2 separate regions of the Homo sapiens genome follow, and region 1 is linked to region 2. Evidence: fine-mapped expression QTL. A gene starts in region 2. The other region holds a variant in brackets. All regions are shown on one strand. Distances are from middle to middle. Region 1 has its middle 52 kb from the start of IL6. Region 2 holds the start of IL6-AS1 (IL6 antisense RNA 1).

The links. PIP is the estimated chance that this variant, and not a neighbour inherited with it, causes the effect.
Region 1: its variant is fine-mapped to the expression of IL6-AS1 in macrophages (Alasoo 2018, PIP 0.95).

The regions. Positions count from the first base shown.
Region 1 is chr7:22,669,880-22,680,443 of GRCh38, reverse strand. No RefSeq gene overlaps it. Among named protein-coding and RNA genes, the nearest start is that of IL6, 52 kb to the left of the region's middle. RefSeq lists a silencer at 2,420-2,714. The variant C/AC (reference allele first, on the strand shown) is at 5,223.
Region 2 is chr7:22,722,158-22,732,721 of GRCh38, reverse strand. It overlaps IL6-AS1 (IL6 antisense RNA 1), which reads left to right and starts at 5,102. Exons shown (of 2, transcript NR_131935.1): 1 at 5,102-5,154; 2 at 6,017-7,327. IL6 (interleukin 6) reads right to left here and starts at 5,522. Exons shown (of 5, transcript NM_000600.5): 1 at 5,441-5,522; 2 at 5,088-5,278; 3 at 3,916-4,029; 4 at 3,062-3,208; 5 at 724-1,316. The coding sequence starts at 5,459. The coding sequence ends at 1,149. RefSeq lists an enhancer at 4,873-6,072 and a silencer at 6,058-6,107.

The sequences.
Region 1 (10,564 bases), 52 kb after region 2:
ATGTGTACACACACACACACACACACACACACACACACACACAGTCACACACACACGATCATTCACAAGCTCATGGTATTTCAACTGAGAAGAAATGTAGGTCACAGTTTTTGAGACCATATTGGGAGAGGTCATTTGATATCATCTGTAAGGTTTTCATTATTCTCTTCTGGGGTAGAGGCAGATTAATGTGTAAGTGCACACACATCTTCAAACATACATGTGCTCAGCTATATAAAACACAAAGTTTGCAAATTTCCTGATGGCATTATTAGGTCCTTATAAAAGAAGTAATTGAGGGCCAGGCGCAGTGGCTCACGCCTGTAATCTCAGCACTTTGGGAGGCCGAGGCAGGCAGATCACTTGAGGTCAGTAGTTTGAGACTAGTCTGGCCAACATGGGAAAACGCCGTCTGTACTAAAAATACAAAAAATTAGCCAGACATCGTGGTGTGCGCCACGATGTAATCCCAGTTACTTGGGAGGCTGAGGCATGAGAATCACTTCAACTCAGGAGGCAGAGGTTGCAGTGAGCTGAGATTGTGCCATTGCACTCCAGCCTGGGCAACAGAGTGAAACTCCATCTAAAAAAAAAAAATAGTAACTGAGGACTAGACGGGTCAAATGACTTGCCTTTGATCACAGAATAATTTTGGACAACTTACTTAGACTTTATGAGCCTTCAATCAACTGCAGATTGAAAATAATTTGGAAAAAAAGCAATGGTTTCACCTGTACTGAACATATACAGACCTTTTAATCTTGTTATTATTCCCTAAAAATATAGTATAATGACTATTTACATAGCATTTACATAGTATTAGCTATTATAAGTAATATAGAGATGATTTAAAGTATATGGGAGGATATGTATAGGCTGTATGCAAATTCTATACAATTTTATATAAGGAGCTTGAGCATCCATGGATTTTGGCATCCGACAGGGTCCAGGAATCAAGCTCCCACAGATACCAAGGGACAACTGTACTGTGATTTATTTATTCACGTTCCTACTGATAGACACAGACTATTTCCTGTTTGTTTCTTCAAGTATTGATGTACTTCATTTATTATGTATTTATATATTATGTATTTATGTTTAGTGAATATTTCTTCATCCACTTTTATGAATATATCTTCAGAATAATTTTTAGCAGTAAAATTACTGGACTAAAAGTTATTTGCATTTAAAATTTTGATAGCATGATCAGTTTTCCCACAAAGACGTTACACCAATATGAAGAAATTTTCTTTTATAGCTGCCCACAAGTGGAATGGGGGAGATTTGGAGTAAAGGTGGCAGATTGAACATACCTTTCTAGTTCTTTCTCTCTCCCCAAACCACTCAAACTAAAATAAAGACTGTTTTTAAGTGGCACAGACCCACAAGGATAGGAGAATGAGACAGGAGCTCAAGCAAAAATATTTCGAAGGTAGCAAGTGATGGACAAATGGTAACCAACTTAACACATCTGGGCAAGGTGAATGTTAAGCTGGTAGTGGGAAACGTTGTGAAATCCTTGATTTTAACTTTGAATCTTTCAAAAACTTTGGAATTGGTGGCACCAGCTACGTATCTATGGATACAGAGTAAAGAGAAGTTGAGAAGTAGTTGGAGTGCTGGGCCTCTCCTTCCAACAATTCAGCGATGCTAGAACATTGCTCCATCCTCACTTTAACCTTAGCAGAAGCCTGGAGGTTTTTTTCTCTAGAAATGATAAAACATAGTCTTTGAACTGTGGATTCAAGCATAGGTGAAGGCAGTGGCCGAGGTATTGTTCCAAAACACCCTGAGCTCTTAGACTCTGTCATGCAGGACTCCAGTTTCCAAACAGAAGAACAGAAGAGCATACCCTTCCATATCTGACCAGCCCAAGAAGAAATACTTGATGTTTCTGAGGTTGGAGGTTCCCCCAGCAAACAGCTCAGCTAGATTAACCTTCCGTGGAGCCAAAATTGGACAGCCATATTCAAAGATCAGAGCTTCCAATCAGCTTTTTAATCCCTCTATTAAAGAGTAGACAATCAAGGAATAGCAGACCACTGAGAATAGCCTCAAATGAAAGATAAAGACCAAAACATTCAAATAAACAATGGGAGAAAGCTAACTCAGAGCGGGGAAAAAGGATTATGCAAGCAGAAGAAACCTTCAAGGAAAAAAATTATTAATATTTTTATAGATAGAAAATAAAATATTTTAACTGCAAAATGAAAATTGGATGCTAGAAAACATAATTAACAAAACAAAAATAAGCTCTTGGAAATTAATAATGACATCAAAAATGAATATTTCCATAGAATGGCTGGAAGGTAATGTTGAGGAAACATCTCAGAAATTAGAAGAGAAAGAAAAGAGACAGAAAACAGGGGAAAATAAGTAAGATAAAATAATTAGAGGATCAGTACAGGAAGTACAGTATTTGAATACGAGTATTCAAAAGAGGAAACAGAGAAAACTGAAAGGAGGAAATCATCAACAAAGTAATTCAAGCACATTTCCCAGAACTAGAAGACATGAGTTTCCTGACTGAAATTGGAAACTGAATGTGGTGCTGAATGCCGACCACAATGCAAGAAAATAGACCCACACCCAACATAGCATTGTGAAATTTCAGGACACTCAGGAAGATATTAAAATCTTCAAGGAGGCCAGGCGCGGTGGCTCATGCTTGTAGTCCCACCACTTTGGGAGGCTGAGGTGGGCGGATCACCCAAGGTCAGGAGTTTGAGACCAGCCTGACCAATATGATGAAACCCCGTCCCTACTAAAAATACAAAAATTAGCCGGGCGTGGTCGTGGGCGCCTGTAATCCCAGCTACTAGGGAGACTGAGACAGGAGAATCACTTGAACCTGGGAGGCAGATGTTGCAGTGAGCTGAGATCGCACCATTACACTCCAGCCTGGGCAACAAGAGTGAAACCTGGTCTCAAAAAAAAAAAAAAAAAAAAAAGCTTCAAGGAAGACAAGACAGGTCATATACAAAGAACCAGCTACCAGAATGACTCTAGACTTCTCAGTAGCAACAAGAGAAGCTGGAATACAATTTTGAATCAAGTTATGGTAGAATAAAGACATATCTAGCCTTGAAAAGATTCAAAAAGTTTACCTCCCACACAGCCTTTCTCAGGAAGCCACTCTGGCACCACTAAAACAATGGAGAAAACCAAAGGAGAAAAAGACTGGAGATACACAAAGTGGGAGAAGGGTAAAGGGAATCTCCAGAAATGGTAAAGGAAAATTCCCAGATGGTAACTCTGCACCAGGCTTGGAGGTAATCAGTTCACATTAGGATAGGCCCAGAGGCTCTGAGAGAGGCTTCTTCAAAGAGGTGAAATGGCTTGAATATCCGATGTGTCTGAATGTCTTGAGAGGAAATTCAGACATTTGGCAGAAAATTGAGGGTTTGAATTACTGATAAATACATGAAAAACTAAGTGAAAACAAAAAGTAAGGTTCTTCAATTAATTTCAGGGAAACACAAGAGTTGTATAGAAGAGGAGAAATAATTATGATTTACCCCATGACTCAGCTCTGAATAGTGTTTATGTAGTTATAATAATGTGAACACTAAATACTGATCTAACCCAAATCAGTACATAAACTATGTTGGAATAATAAGAACATGGAGAGGGTGTGTGTATTGTGTATGCGGAATGAAATAATGAAATCTTCATCCAACATTGTGGGTGGTTAGTGGAGAATACCTAACACGGAAAAATAAAGAAATAGCAATACAAGCATGTTATTTAGAAATACAGAGGTAAATCTTTCTAAAAGAATTACCAAAGAAAATTGAAAGTGGGTGCCTCTAGGGAAGGACTTCTGCTTTTCTTAATGAATCTTACAGATTTGACTCAACTATGTGCACAGGTAACTCTGATTAAAAAAGAAAAGAGTGTGCCATCTCTGGTGTATTCTTTGTCCCTGGGATGTTTGAGAAGACCTTTTAGGAGTGTGCTATAAAGGTGATCCAAGCATCCTGAGGGTGACTGGATGAAATTCCTTAGTTTCTTCCGAGCCTGGAGGTTGATGGGCTTATGATTTTCAGTAATGAAACTATTTCCAAAGCACTTGATGTCCTATGGAACTGTGGAAAATTTCTTCCTTAAACTGAAATATAGCCCCAACTAATCTCTACTGTTGATTCTGGTTTTACTACTTGGGTCATAAAAAACAAATCCAATCCCTGTTCTTTATCAGCCCTCTTCAAGCATGATTAGACTGTTTTCATCTAAAAACCATTCCTCACACCCACTGTTATGGTTTTTGATCTCCTCACATCCTGTTCAACTTCCTGTGATTACATTCCACTTCTGAAGTGTGTGTGTGTGTGTGTGTGTGTGTGTGTGTTCAAAACAGAACATAATATTCCAGTTGTGGCGTGACCACAGGACACCTCCTTCTTGATTATAAAGCTCATCAGTCAAGAGTAGAGACTTCAGAGTCAGCCAGCCTGGGTTTAGGCCTAGCTGTTTTTTGTTTGTTTTTGGTTTTTTTGGTGAGACAGAGTCTCGCTCTGTTGCCCAGGCTGGAGTGTTAGTGGCGTGTTCTCGGCTCACTGCAACCTCCACCTCCTGGGTTCAAGCAATTCTCCTGCCTCAGCCTCCTGAGTAGCTGGGATTACAGGCACCTACCACCACGCCCGGCTAATTTAGTAGAGATGAGGCATCACCATATTGCCCAGGCTGGTCTCAAACTCCTGAGCTCAGGCAATCCACCCACCTCGGCCTCCCAAAGTGCTGGGATTACAAGCATGAGCCACCGCACCTGGCCTAGACCCAGCTTTGATACTTCCTGGCTGTGTGACTTGGAATGAGTTATACAACCTCATTGTCCTTCAGTTTCTTTGTTGATAAAACAGGAACAATGTCAGTATCTTCCTCGTGAGATTGTTTTGAGGATTTAGCAATATGATAAATGCCCAGCACTTAGAACAGAGGATGTCAAATAGTAGATGTTTAAAGAGTGTTAGCTATTAATTTTTTTCCTAGAATTTTCTATCAGTGTAGCTCAAGAAACCTATGAATATTTTTGACTGCTTGTTTCAATTAATCAATAAAGCAATCAATTAAACAGCAAACATTTGTTGAGTGCCTCTCTGTGCCAGATGCTGAGAAGAAGGGGAATAAGACCCCTTATCTGGAGGAGTTGATAAGTTGAGTTAGTTAAGAACTAACATCCTTTATATTTGTTTTATTGTCTCTTTTTGAAAAAAAAAAAA[C/AC]ATTTTAATCAAAGGTATACATGCACATCATTTAAAAAGGCATGGTGCTTCATGTCTGTTATTCCAGTGACTCTGGAGGCTAAGGTGGGAGGATTGCTTGAGGCCAGGAGTTTGTGACCAACCTGGGCAACATAGTGAGATCTCATCCCTAAAAATAAAAAATATATTAGCTGGGCTTGGTGGCTCATGCCTGCAGTCCTAGCTACTTGGGAGGCTGAGGCAAAAGGATTGCTTGAGCCGAGGAGTTCAAGGCTGCAGTGAGCTGTGATCACTCCACTGTACTTCAGCCTGGGCAACACAGTGAGACTTTGTCTCTAAAAGAATTTTTTTTTTTTAATTTTAGTTTTTGAAAAAGTTAAGCCAGGCATAGTGGCTCATGCCTGTAACCCCAACACTTCGGGAGGCTGAGGCAGGAGACTTGTTTGAGCCCAGGAGTTTGAGACCAGCCTGGGCAAGATGGCAAGACCCTGTTTCTATAAAAATAATAAATAAATAAATAAAAATAAAAGTATTGTTAAATAGTATTAAAGAAATTACAATGGTTCCCTGTATCACTCTTCACACTCTTTCGTTGCTTCTTCCTAGAGGCAACTACTTTTGATTCTTTTAGCCATTTCTTCTTGCATATACATCTCAGTACTTCTAAATGATATGCCTAGATATACTGTTTGCAATGGTGACTTTTAGACATAATCATCTGTTATGATAGATGAACATCCAACTCTTATACTATCCTTCCTTATTGTTCCCATGCCCCACCCTCCCAAGATAATACAATTTTTGATTAAACTTCTGTATTTACCTAACTTTTTATGCAAATACAATTTCCAGTTGAGCACTGTGAACTATGGTTGCCTTTTCTAGTTTTTCCTGAAATTGTTGCCTTTTTTCCTATTTGCCTAATTTTCTTTGTACCTCTTCTAGCAGACGCACCTTCTAATAGACACCAACATTGGATGGTTTATCACTTTCTTTTTTTCTCTTAGGATAGCCCACTCCCCACCCCACCCCCGATCCCTTTCCTCTTCTGAGTTGAATGCTCTCCAGGCTGTTGCAGAGCTGTCATCTATCTTGAGTCTTTCCTTCACTGTGGACCTTGGAATTCTCTAGATTTTTCTCCCAAGTTGGATTCCTCATCTCTTCTTTTTTGGTTTACTCTCTTATTTTGGGGGAGAACATCCTCCAGTAATCAGGTTAAAAAGGATCTTCCCTTAGTCCCCAGTGTTGTGAAATTTCACAATAATCTGCCTGGATTATTCTGGGCCCTCAGTGGCCCCTTCAGGAAATCTGGAAACTTAAGTCTTTCACTTCTGAGAAATTTGCTTGAATAATTTTACTGACGATTTCCTCTCGTTGGCTTTCTTCTCCCTTGTTTGGAAACTCTTGTTAATCAGATATTCAGACCCCTGGATTGGTTCTCTAATATCTTCATTTTCTTGTTTTTGTTTTCCCCTCTGTCATTTTACTCACCTTTCTAGAATGCCTCAATTCTATTTTCTGGTCCTAGGTTCCTTTTTATAGTTTCCTACTCTTGTTTCAAAGGTATGTCATTGTCTCTTATTTCCCTGAGGGTATTCATGATACTTTTAAAGTTTTAGTCACTGTGTATTTTATTTCCTCCGAATTGCTTTTATCTATTTGTTTTGTTCTCCAGTTTTCTTGCCCTGGGCTTTCCTTAGACATCTGGCACCCTTGGATGTTTGTTCAGGATTAGAGGACTAAAAAGTGGATTGGATGCTCTCAACTTGCAGGCAAGGCTTGTTGACTTTGAGCTTCACTGTAGGGTGAGCTGGAAGCACTGTTTGTTTTAGGAAACTTTTTTGCTTCAGTATTTTCTGACCTTTTTTCATGGACTGGTCAGATTCCTCAGAAAGAAACCTTTCTAATCTCCTGCCAAGGTTACAAGTATGCTGTCACTGTTCTGATGGCCAATTGGGGAAACAGAGCTGGGGAAGAAGGGCTGCGGGTCTCACCATTTTATGGTTTGTGTTACTGTTCTCAAATCAACCGCTGTGCCAATTGACCTCCGGTCAGGAAGGATTCCTTCAAAGAATAAACCTGCCATCTTGTATGGGGGAGGGGAAGAGGACATACTCAGTGATGTGGAGCAGAGAGGGGAATGAAGGCTCTGATTGCTTCTCACACAGCTTTTACCCAGCCCATCCTAGATTGGTTTCTTTCACCGTAACCTTCAGTTTCAGAAGCACTATCTGAAACTGCCAGTTCCTGAGCCTGTTGAGGACTCTGCATTGTAAATTTTGTTGGTTTTCTGGTTTTGCCACTGTTGGCTGAGACCTCGACATTCTATGATGTGCTAAATTATGTCAGCCCTAACTACATTTGAGCTGCATTGTGTATCAGGATTATATTTCTCTCTCTTTCTCTCATTCTGTTTTCTTTATTCTCTCCTTCTGGGTATTGGCCTTCCTGGATGGATCCTGTTTTTAAAAAAATCTTCTTTCCCTTTTCAATCTCTTTGTCTCTATCTTATACTTCCTGTGAGATTTCCTCAAGTTTATTATTTAACCCTTTCATTGAGCTTTTAATCTCTGCTATCACATTTAGAATTCCCAAGAGCTCTCTTTTTAAAAATGATGTCTTGTTTCATGAATATATCTTCTATCTCTCTGAGGACATTAATATTACCTGAAAACATTTTTTTATCTCCTTGTTTATTTCTTCTGAATTTCTTATTTCTGTTAGTTTCCTTCAAGAGAGTTGCTTTTCACAAATATCTTGGCCACTTATTTATTTTTGTTTTTTAGTTATTTTTTACAGATGGGAGTCTCACTTTGTTGCCCAGGCTGGACTCAAACTCCTGGGCTCAAGGAATGTTCCCACCTCAGCCTCCCTAGTAGCTGGGATTACCAGCTTGTGCCACCCCACCCAGCACTGGTCACTTATTTTTAAGGGAGAGGCACTAAAATGTTGATTGGAAGCCTTATTTAGGGGGATTTCATTAGCTGCTGGGCTTCTCTGAAGGGTGATCTGGCAGGTCTCCCATTTTTTTCCATTGGAAGAACTTTAAATGTGCAAAGGCAGGTTTCCCTTTGATATTTAGTTTCCCCTGAGGGGAGTTGTCTAATCTCTTGCCTAAAGGACAGAAACTTGCCTTCCAAGCATTCTGAAGCTGAGCCTCCAAAAGGTTGACAACATGGGCAATATTGGTGTGGATGTGTGTGGACATGTTTCCTCATTCCAGTTTGACCCTATCCCCTAATCCTGTTTTTTGCTGGTATTGCACTCTGCCCACTCTGGTGGCTGGAGTCCTACAGGCAGACTGCCTTGGCTGCTTAGTGTTATTTTTTCTTAAAATTTGTTTTTGTAATGTCCTTTAAGTAGGTTTGGAGGAAATAAACACACATCTTTAACTCTTCAAGTAAAACTAGAAGTCTTGCTTTTATAATGATTCATATCTGCTTGGCCAAATCATGCCTTTCTGAACTTGGGTAATTGTTTACATGGAGCTTCACTTCCCTGCATCTTTTTCATCAGACAAAGCATACTGGAATTTTGATTCTCTCATTTAATATACAAATAAGAGTATTTTGGTGCTGGCTTTCAAGAAGTTGGGCTAGGCTTCCTCAGGATTCTGGAATGTGGGTCAATATATCAACTTCTGCAGGACAGCTGTGGGCAAGAGAAAGAAGGCTGATACATGGAGCAAGTGCACTTGCTGTGTGTGTGAGGGTGAGAGAGGGACATGGATGTGATGCGACCCGAACTGACTTGTATGCTGAAATAACAGCATGCACTCATCCTCAACATGGCACCCCTGCTCTGCTTGGGCACCTCTGGGAAGCTGCACTGATGCCCTTGAGTCACGCTTTGCTCTGCATTTGCATATCCAGATTGCCAGGTCCTCTCCTCCCGAGCAGAGTTTCTTGAGAAAGCCCAGGTGGTGCAGCATGGCCTTTTTGAAGGCTTGCCTGCAACTCCTGCTCCAACAAGAGGTCATAGCCTAATTAAGATAGTGTGGCCAGTGGTAAATCTCAATTCTAACTGGTGAGAACCATTGTTATTACGTTTGAGTGGGAATATAATTTTATTAAAAGCTTAAAAACAAACAAAACTCAAAGAATGAATGATTTCCAAGTTGTATTTAGAAAATTTAGAACTTAATGAATGGTTGCCTTGGAAGTCTTTCGTACCTAGCCACTAAGCAAGAAATACCCATAAAACAGTACTTTGCCAGCTTATCCTAAATTACATCATGATTTTGAAAGTAATAAAAATATTTTTAAAAACTTCTATAAATTACTTAAAGTATAAAGGGGGCTGCTTCCCCAAAGGCTTGGGCAGGGCAGCTCGTCTGCAGATGGGCCCAGGGGTGTAGCAGCACTTCTTATGGAAAAAAAAAAAAGTATAAAGTGGGTTTTCATGAATTCAGACTGGCTGTCATCCTATTAGTTCAAAATGACCCATATTTTCAAGCAGATTGTAAGGTTTTCTTTTGAATTATCTAAGGACACTTTAATGGAACATGAGGAATTTGCTTGCTGTTCTAATCTGGAGCCCAGGAAGCTGGTTTGATGTCAGGGCCAAGCTGTGGAATGGGGTGGGATAGTGCTCTGGTTAAGGTTGGCATTCAGTCCTCAGCTGTCTGTCCTATCCATGTGTTTGCCAGTCTCCATCTACAGGGCAGGAGGGAAGGGGAAGCCAACTTGTTCTGGCCTTGGGTGTATTAGAAAACATCTGCTAAGAGAAGCGTTTTTAATTAGGAGTAGAATACCCCTGCTAACCAGAAGTGGTGTAGATGGAATGTGGAATTTTTATAACAATTCTTAAGAAGTTCTTAAGCTAATATACTTCACCTTCATGATTATTCATAAGCACATTATGAATTATTATTAACTTTGTAAATGTTCAATGGATTTTTTATTTGTGACAATGACATTTATAGAATTTATTTTCCATGCCTTATATGTATTGTGGTTTAGACTTAAGGTAGTTATAAAATCCTTAATTGTATTGCAAAATTCAACTATGACATCATCATTTGCTAATTCATGTTTCCTAAACATGGGAATGAAATTTACTCCCAATAATACTATTGCAATTTTTTAATGTCCTTAGAACCTTAACCTTTTAAATAAAGGGTAAAAATAACACCAGAATGCCTGTTAATATGTAATTTTCTTCTTAGACAAAAACTTTAATAGAACCTTTAATTTCTATCATGGTGAGGACAGAGTTCCTTTATGGAAGTATTGGTAAAATGTTAAGATGTAAAAAATTGAGCCCTGCTTCTAAGCAACTGAAATGAAATGAGTTGGGATTCCGGTGGCAACATCCGGGATTCCAGGTGTTAAGGCATAACACAGCTGGAAGCTCATCTTTCA
Region 2 (10,564 bases):
GGTAGACTTGGATTTCAAATCTGGGTCCCTGCCTGACCTTCCAGCTGGGTGACTTAGATAAATTACTTAGTCTTCCACAACCAGAAAGGAGTGTGCAAGTGCTGGGGTTAAATGACGTGATGGATGCAACACATTTAATGATGCCTGGCATGTAGTAGGTGCTTATATGTATATATATATGTGTGTGTGTACATATATAGTATATATATATATCGTATACATACATATATAGTATATATACAGTATATAGTATATATAGTATATAGTATATATAAATATATAGTATATATAGTATATATGCATATATACTATGTATGCATATATAGTATATATATACTATATATATACATACACAGTATATATACTATATATACTATATATATACATACATAGTATATATACTATATATACTATATATACTATATATACACATACATAGTATATATACTATATATACTATATATATACATACATAGTATATATACTATATATACTATATATATACATTCATAATATATATGTGTATATATAGTATATATGTGTATATATAGTATATATGTATTATATATAGTGTATATATGTATTATATATAGTATATATATTTATTATATATAGTATATATATGTATTATATATAGTGATTGATTAGCTTTTTTTGGTCGTGGTGGTGGCAGTGACAAGAAACTTGTTTATATTAAGCTTCACGTGACACACTCAAAGTTGCTGAATTTTTTAAAATGCCATTTATTGGTATAAAAACCATTTATACATTATATAAATACAATATAAATATTTCTTTAAAAATATGTATAAGTTAGCCATTTATTTGAGGTAAGCCTACACTTTCCAAGAAATGATCTGGCTCTGAAACAAAGGATATTCAAACTGCATAGCCACTTTCCATTATTATTTCAAAACTAATACATAAAATGTTTCAAGTGGTACTTCTTAAAAATATAAATATGACTTACATAAATTAACTCAGCTTCACATATTTAAATATTAATAAATTAAAAATAATTAAAATAGTGTCCTAACGCTCATACTTTTAGTTCTCCATAGAGAACAACATAAGTTCTGTGCCCAGTGGACAGGTTTCTGACCAGAAGAAGGAATGCCCATTAACAACAACAATCTGAGGTGCCCATGCTACATTTGCCGAAGAGCCCTCAGGCTGGACTGCAGGAACTCCTTAAAGCTGCGCAGAATGAGATGAGTTGTCATGTCCTGCAGCCACTGGTTCTGTGCCTGCAGCTTCGTCAGCAGGCTGGCATTTGTGGTTGGGTCAGGGGTGGTTATTGCATCTAGATTCTTTGCCTGAAGGAAAATGAAAGTAAAAAGGATTGTTTAAATGTTGAATAAATCCTTTGCAGTGGAGGGATGCTCTGGGCTATGGGATGATGTTCAAATGTGAAATGTGGGGTGAATGAGATTAACTGGGGTGCCTGCTCTGAGTAGGACCCTTCCATAGCAACAAACTTCTTTTTTTTTTTTTTGAGTCAAGGTCTCGTTCTGTCACCCAGGCTGGAGTGCAGTGGTGCACAGCAACCTCTGCCTCCTGGGTTCAAGTGATTCATGTGCCTCAGCCTCCTGAGTAGCTGGGTTACAGGTGTATGCCACCATGCCTGGCTAACTTTTTTGTATTTTTAAGTAGAGATGGGGTTTTACCATGTTGACCAGGCTGGTCTTAAACTCCTGGCCTCAAATGATCCACCCACCTCAGCCTCCCATAGCGCTGGGATTATATCAGCACTGTGCCTGGCTCACAGCAACCAACTTCTAATCATCCCTTTGCTGTTCTGTCTCCCATTAGACCACAAGCATCCTGAGGGAAGCACCACTATCATTTTTGTTTGTTTGGTTTTGGTTTTTTGTAGAGATGGGGTCTTGCTATGTTATCCAGGCTGGTCTTGAACTCCTGGCCTTAGGAGTTCAAGGAGTTCTCACCTTAGGCTCCCAAAGTTTAGGGAATACAGGCATGAGCCACCAAGCCTGACCAGCATCACTATCTTATTTGTTTGTATTCTGTCATATGAAATAATGCCTGGCACATAGTTCATATTTAGTATATGAATGAAGAGCCCATACTTAAAGGCATTTTAATATGGGTTCTTCAGTGGCCTCTAAATCTGATACTTTTCTCCAGTTTCCCTCTCACCATCCCTTTAGGATCTGTTGAAAGACCACTGATCCGGTGGTGTAAAGAGGACTGGGAAACACCTTTCCATAGACCCACCATATGGGATAAGTAACTTGTGGAAGGCCTTAAACCTCCAAGTGTGGTCCTGGAATTCTGCAGCATCACCAGGGATATAAGCCTGGTAGAAATTTGACCCTCAAACCCACCCGAGGCTTGCTAAGTCAGACTCCACACCACAAGAAGATGCCCAGGGAATTCCCATGCATGTTAACATATGAGAAACCCTGGCTTAAGTAGAAATGGCAGAGGCAGGATCAGCACCAAGGGTTTCATTCTAGGCCCCTTCTTATTGAGCTTTGGCTCCTCCACATGCTAGCCAGCAAGTCTACTCCCTGCTGTCTGAATAGCCAGCTACTGGTGGCCAAAGCCTTTGGTACCTCTTTCCACCCTTGAGTCTCTGACCATTTCTCTGAACTAACTCTCTGGTAAAAGGTAGGAAAAAGAATTGAAACAACCACAGTGAGAAGAATGTCACTTGGCAATGACTAAAATCTTAAAATCATTTTGTGCTCCTTGGTCTTTGTTTCTGTGGATCACTGGCTGGAGTTGGATGCACTTTTTTCTGCCCGCCCCCCCGCCTTTGGTTTTAAATCTCTTGCACTATTAAAAATTGATGTTAAAATCCACCTCAGTTAATATATAGTTTAAAATACAGTTATTGATGTCCTTTGCAGAAGAGAGCCAACCAACCAAACAAACAAAAAAAGATTTAACAATAACAATCAGAAACTATTTCTCAGACTCTTTTGTTTACGTGTAGCCTTCTCTTTTGGAAGTGGCATTGCATCCCTGAGTTGTCCAGGACACTGTCTTTGAGCCTGTCTTCCCCCACACCAAGTTGAGGGAATGAGGACACACCCACCTTTTTCTGCAGGAACTGGATCAGGACTTTTGTACTCATCTGCACAGCTCTGGCTTGTTCCTCACTACTCTCAAATCTGTTCTGGAGGTACTCTAGGTATACCTCAAACTCCAAAAGACCAGTGATGATTTTCACCAGGCAAGTCTCCTAAGAGGAAAGATGGTGGGAAAATTGGTTATCGCCAGGAGATAGAATCAATTTGAAAAGTTAAAATTGCCACAGTTCGACATCTTTTCCCTCTGCTCCTCTAGAGAACTTCAAGTACCTCTTAGGCAGCATGTTTTGGGACATTGGACAGCACCATTTTAAATAACTGGACAATCAGAGGCCCCATGTAATTAGTTTTATCCAAAGCCCAACAGATGCTAGAATGTGGCAATGGGGATCCTTCTCTGATTGTCCCCCTTGATGTTCTTCCTGCACTCTTGCCCTTGTTAATGCTGGGCTGGAACCTCCTTTTATAAAATAATCAGAAGACAGTGCAGGTTATCTCACTGTGGAGAATGAGCTGGGCAGGGAGGGAGGGCAGACCTGGACCCTGCCAGGGGCAGCCAGAGAGGGAAAAGGCCCTGAGAGTACCTTTCCCAGGATGAACTAATTAAACCTGTGGGAGTTTTAAACATTTGACAGTTGTTAAAATCTCACCACAGTGGCACCATCTCTGGCCATACCTGTCCAAGAATAAACTGCCTTTAAAAAAGCTTGAAGTTGGCCTCCTCATGAAATTTACATAACATTCTTTACATTTACCCACTTTTTGTTGCTGCCTGGATCTATATGTATACAGGCACTGCATGCAAGAGGGAGAAGTTTTGCCTAAGGAATAGTGAAAAGTGAGTGCGACAAGTTGGTACCTCATTGAATCCAGATTGGAAGCATCCATCTTTTTCAGCCATCTTTGGAAGGTTCAGGTTGTTTTCTGCCAGTGCCTCTTTGCTGCTTTCACACATGTTACTCTTGTTACATGTCTGGGAAAGAATACCAGAATTGTTATCACCTAAGTGTCCCTAAAACAAACACCACTAGAGGGCCTTTTCATTGTTCAACCACAGCCAGGAAAGTCTCTAAGAAAAATGAAGCTACAACTCATTGGCATCCTGGCAAGCAAATTCCAGTGGAGTGGGGGCACACTTGGGTTCAGTTCCAAGCTCACCTGTGACTTTAGGTGTGTTACTTAATCCTGAGTCTCAGTTTCCTTATCTCCAAAAACCTTCCTTGCAAATTTGTTTTGAAGATTAGACACAATATTTATTTAAAGTGCCTGGCACACAGTAGATACTTAATAACAGCAATTTTGACAATAATTAGGAGAATATAATTCAAGCCATAGAATGTTCCAGCAGGAAGGATCTATGAGATCACCTAGTCCACGCCCAATTTTACTGATGGAGTCCAGAGGTGGTAGGGAATTTACCCAAGATCACAAGGCTGGTTTGGCAGAACCAGAATTCGAGTGTGGGCTCCCAATCTCCCCTCCTGTGTTCTTTTCTTTCTACCAAACAGGACCAAAATACCTTGCATTGAAAGTGGGGAGATGCTTTAACCTATTTATGATTTGCCACTTTGGTGGGCTCTGAGGTATGAATCTTAGCTGGAATGGCTTTGAGGAATCCTAGCCATTGAGTTTACATAACCAAAAAGTACTGCAACTGCTCTGAGAAGCTGAACATGCCTTTCAGGTGGCACTTTTCTAGTCCTTCCAAAGCCCGGGGGACAAAAAGGAGCTTCACAGACCTAATTTTTTGGAAAGGGAAAAGGAAGCCCTGAGAAGCAATAACCCTCAGCTCATGCCAAAGGTGGGCATGGATTTCAGACCCATTCTGCATTTTCCAGAAAGGAAAGGAACTTCCTGACACCAGCAAAGGATAAATACAGAAGTCAGTCTAGTCGGCCCCGTTGGCCTCAAATCTACAGTGCTCTAGAACCCAGCAAAGACCTCCTAATGCAGGCAGCCCCCGGCCACACGCAGGGGCAAGGGGAACGCATGCGCACCGGGCCCTTCAACCCCATCGCCAAGCCTACCCACCTCCTTTCTCAGGGCTGAGATGCCGTCGAGGATGTACCGAATTTGTTTGTCAATTCGTTCTGAAGAGGTGAGTGGCTGTCTGTGTGGGGCGGCTACATCTTTGGAATCTTCTCCTGGGGGTACTGGGGCAGGGAAGGCAGCAGGCAACACCAGGAGCAGCCCCAGGGAGAAGGCAACTGGACCGAAGGCGCCTGTGCCGGAGGGGAGCGAGCGCAGGGGTGAGCTGACAGCACAGCTGGGAGCCTGCCTCTGCTGCTGGCCGCCCGCCAGCCCTCCCTGGGCCACACACCCCTCCCTCACACAGGGCTCGACCGCCGCTGGCAGTTCCAGGGCTAAGGATTTCCTGCACTTACTTGTGGAGAAGGAGTTCATAGCTGGGCTCCTGGAGGGGAGATAGAGCTTCTCTTTCGTTCCCGGTGGGCTCGAGGGCAGAATGAGCCTCAGACATCTCCAGTCCTATATTTATTGGGGGTTGAGACTCTAATATTGAGACTCATGGGAAAATCCCACATTTGATAAATCTTTGTTGGAGGGTGAGGGTGGGGCCAGAGCGGGTGGGGCTGATTGGAAACCTTATTAAGATTGTGCAATGTGACGTCCTTTAGCATGGCAAGACACAACTAGGGGGAAAAGTGCAGCTTAGGTCGTCATTGAGGCTAGCGCTAAGAAGCAGAACCACTCTTCCTTTACTTTCTTTTTTTCTTTTATTAGTGACTCAGCACTTTGGCATGTCTTGACAAAGAGTAAAGCTGAAGTCATGCACGAAGTTTTACAAAGAGAAAAAAAATAAGCTAAAGCTATGTTTTTTGAAAAAAAAAAAATTTTTTTTCAGTGACCAGATTAACAGGCTAGAATTTAGCGTTCCAGTTAATTTGTATTTGTAAAAACCAAAGATGTTCTGAACTGAGTTTCCTCTGACTCCATCGCAGCCCCCCAAGCCTGGGATTATGAAGAAGGTAATACTACCAGTCATCTGAGTTCTTCTGTGTTCTGGCTCTCCCTGTGAGCGGCTGTTGTAGAACTGCCTGGCCATCCTCAAATTTCGTGCAGTTACTTCAAGGCGTCTCCAGGTGGAGTGTGTGACTCCTTTTTGCCACCGCGTGGCTTCTGCCACTTTCTTCACCTGCTTCAGCCCACTTAGAGGAGGTTGGCTGCTGCCCTGCCCTCTCCCAAGTGACCCCTTGGGAATCCTCCCAGTGAGGACTTTGCTCTCTGTGCCAGAGGTTTGCCTTGTGCTGCCAGTGCTCTCCCCATTGCCACTGAGTCTCTTCACCACTGTTTCACTGGGGCACCTGCATGGGCCCCAGGTCTCCTGGAGCCCTGAAATTACTGAAGCCCACTTGGTTCAGGGCAGAAAGGGGGAGAATACTACTCACCTCTTTGTTGGGGATGTCAAAGGAGGACCTTGTGGCATCTTGCAGAGTTTGTGTTTATCGCTCCCTCTCCCTGTAAGTCTTGATTTGAAATCAAAAGAAGCTAGAAGGAAACTACGGACGCAGGCACGGCTCTAGGCTCTGAATCTGCTTCCGCGTCGGCACCCAAGAATTTCTTATTGGGTCAAGCTGGTTCAGAAGCCCTCTTCCCTCAGGATGGTGTCTCTTGCAGGAGGATCCTTGGTCTCATGCAAATGGGCTCTAGACTAGGTTGTCCCTCCAGTCTCCAGAGACCCAGACAGCTCTGAGATGGCTTCAGGCTGAAACCAGACCCTTGCACAACACCAAAACACTTATTTACCAAACATGGTGTTACCTTCACAATCGGTTTCTTTGCTTTGCTAAGAAGAGATCTCTTCAAGATCGATAAAACAGTGACCTCTGTTGGGCATTTACTCAAGTTTTGTTTCGTGCATAACATTTCAGGACCCGCCTGTTGGGGAAAGTGAGGTCATCCATTCTTCACCGATTGTCTAAACAGAGACGGTGGTCCTCTGCCGCGGTGGGATTCTTTGGTGTGAAAATGAAAATGGGGGAGGATGGCTGGATGGTTTCATTTTTAGTGCTCTCCTGTCTTAAGCAACGTAGACACTCCTGAACCAAGTTCTCTTTCCTGCATGAAACGAAGCCACTGCTCCCAGCTCCGCAGCCGTGCACTGTGATCCGTCTATGTAATGTGAGCTTGCTTTTACTCAACTATCTATTTTTTAGAAAATACAATTCAATAAATTTCAAGTACTTGAACTGAGTGACACAATACAACACACAGATTTATCTTTTCAATAAAAAGTGTTTTTTAAATAGGAAGTTCGTGTTCATGATAAAATGTTCAAATAGGACATCAGGGCATGCAGGGAAAAGTGTCTCCTTCCTCTCCTGGCCCCTTTTCCCAGAGGTAGCACCTAATTGCCTGTATTTTCAACCAAATCCTCTGTTATCCTAGCCTGGGAAAGGTTTTCTCGTCTTCCCAGCTGTTTGATCCTGGCTGTTACATCAAGGACCTGTGCCCTTGTTTATTCACCTATAAAACGGGGGTAATAATAGTTCTTCCTTTCTAGGGCTGTTGTGAAGATGGAACGTGATGCAGTGTAAAAAATTCCTGGCGCATAGTAATCCCACAATACATGCTAGCTCTTTGAACATTCCTTGGCTCAGAGTCTCTGCCTTGGAGAGCTCTTCCAGCTCGGCTATATCGGTTCACCTGGTGTCTTGCCTATGAAGGAATTATGAATGAACCAGGCCTCTGTGCCAGCAATGAGCTGGTCTCCCAATCATTTTCCCTCAAAAGAAATGAGATTCTATGTTTTGTTGAAAATGTTTTATGGCACAAAGTGCAAAATGAAAAATAATAATAATTTTCTTTTTTGAGAACATTAAGATCCCCAAACCAGGTCTCTTGTTTTAGATAATTAGTCCAGCTTGCGTCTTGCTCCTACTAGACTTTTTCCAAGCCCTCCACTAAGTGTTTTTATGTCAGAATTCCACAGCCTTCCCTGTGCATGGTGATTGCCATTAATTCAAACTCCTGATAGTGGCCCTCGAGGGTGAAGGGGCCTGATGCTTCTGGGGTCAAGAAAGGGCAAACTGTGGGAAGGCATGTGTGTAGGGAGCTTGGAGACACTGTCTGCCCCCTGCACATCGCAGCATGGCACTTTATTAGTATCAATGCTTTGGGCTGGAATTTGCTTGTGGGAGAGATGAGCTCTACCTTGCTCCAAAAACGTTAATGTAACTGACATGTGCAATTCCACAATGATAGCTTCCTTCCTTTGCATCTCAATGGATTTTTCGCGTGGAGAGCTCATTCTTTGTTTTTTCTTGTTTTGTTTTGTTTTTTCTCTTGAGAAGGAGTCTTGCTCTGTTGCCCAGGCTGGAGGGCAATGGCATGATCTTGGCTCACTTCAACCGCCGCCTCCCAGGTTCAAGCAATTCTCTTGCCTCAGCCTCCTGAGTAGCTGGGACTACAGATGCATGCGACCACGCCCAGCTACTTTTTGTATTTTTAGTAGAAACGGGGTTTTGCCATGTTGGCCAGGCGGGTCTTGAACTCCTGACCTCAGGTGATCCACGCGCCTCGGCCTCCCAAAGTGCTGGGTTTACAGGCGTGAACCACTGTGCCCAGCCCCTTGTATTTTTTAAAGGGCAGCTTTAGGTCATAGCAAAATGGAGAGGAAGGTACAGAGATTTCCCATATATCCCCCTCTCCCCCCAACTCTCCCCCGTATTTTAGTATGAATACGTGACCAGAAAAGGCTGTGCTGTCAGCATTTATTAACTAATACTTTAGTTGCTGGATTGCATCATAGCTGATGTGAAGTGAGCGCCAGCTGAGATCAAGAGAGGCCAGACAAATGGGAGTGCACAGGGAGGAAGCAGCAACTTGGCTTCCTATGCCACCAGTGTGGGGCTGGCATGTCCTATCTGGATCTCCCAGAATTACTGCCCATGACTGCTTTCTTACGTGATGGTGGAGTCCAGTTCAGAATCTAGTAATACATTTGAGACCAAGGGGGAAAAGTAGCTTCCATTTGGTACTTAAGCTCTCAGGAGGAGAAGTGTTCTCCACGTCTCAGGAGTTAAGATGTAGTGTTGTGCTCTTTCTCTATATTCTGGGGGTTGGAGATGGATGAGTCTGTGATTTAACAGGAGGGAGTACAGCAAGAAAAAACGGGAAGTCCTGGGTACTAGGGAACTTGCAGTTGCTGCCAGAATGTAGTTTCACTTGTTGCCAAGTCGTAAGAAGTTTGTAAACTGAAACAGTGGGTGATTTAACAGCTTCTTCTGGGGTTGAGTCCCACTGAGCAGACACCAGGCTCTAAGGCTCTGGGAAATGTCCTGCTTTGATGGTGGTATTACTTGAAGAGAGAATTTTAGGGACATGTGGTGTGTCAATTTAGAAAGAGCCAGCTGATGTTGGAGGGCAGCCAGGCCTGGTGACCAAAGCTCTTGACAGTTTCCTGCCTGGTCTGGTCTCAGTCCTGGCTTTGCAGCCTCAGCTCTGATGTCCTGTTGTAGCTCCTTGGTCTGGTGAATTCTTAGTCTGGCCTCAGCTTTTCTGAGGGGGAGGATGTTCAGGGGCTGGACCTAGCTCCTCCTAGACTAGAGAAGGGGCACATCTGCCCTGCTGTGTTTCTCATTCAAAACTCTATAGGGAGGTCATCTGTTCTGTGCCCTCATTATTTTGCTATGTGACTTACCTTCCCCCTGCTGAAGTGGAAAATCCCAGGCATCTTGGGAGGGAAGTAGCCTCTCCGGGGGCAAAAAGTGTAGATTCTCTTTGCCTTGGGACACCCCCGTACCCCTTTCCCTGGGTCTCTAGGCTTGGAAGAGAGTGCCCTGATTGCAAACTTCTCTGAAGCTAGTTTGCTGATGAGAAAAATGGCTTTGCTGGTCCTGAAGAAGCCCCATTTGGCCCTGCCCCCATGGCTGGGGAGGTCCCTCGGACTGAGTTTCAGTGCTTTGCCTCTTCTCCATCTGTGGGGTAGGCTTTCTATGGTGGTGGCCACTGGTTCTGCTTTATAATTAGGAAACTTCAATTTGTCAGCGAGCAGTAATACGTTCATTTATTATCACGAGTCATTTGAGCCATCTTTGGTTTCTCCAAAGATCTCAGTTCTCTGAGTTCAGTGTCATCAGCAGAAACTAAGCATGCAAAGCATTGGCTGGTTTCCTCTACTCTTTTCCCTCAAAATTAAGGTACTAAGAACCCATTTGAAATCATCACATGTAATGGCCAGACCAGGGGATTCTACTGGCCTGGTTATGACGTCTTTTACCTCCCTTCCTTGCCCTTTTGGTTAGTTATTTGCTAAAAGGAGAGTGTCTTAGTCCCTCTGAACTAAGCCTCCTTAGCAAGCTGAATCCATGAAGAGAGGCCATTCTAGTCTTCATGGTGGAATAATTTCCACGAAATGCTTTGGACATGTTGAGGACTCTGACTCTGTAATTCTGAGACATTGGGGTCCATTATTTCTGAAGATGGGTACACCTGGATTGATTTAAAATGTTATGGAAGAATTCAGATCCAGGTAAGCAAGTTGAAGA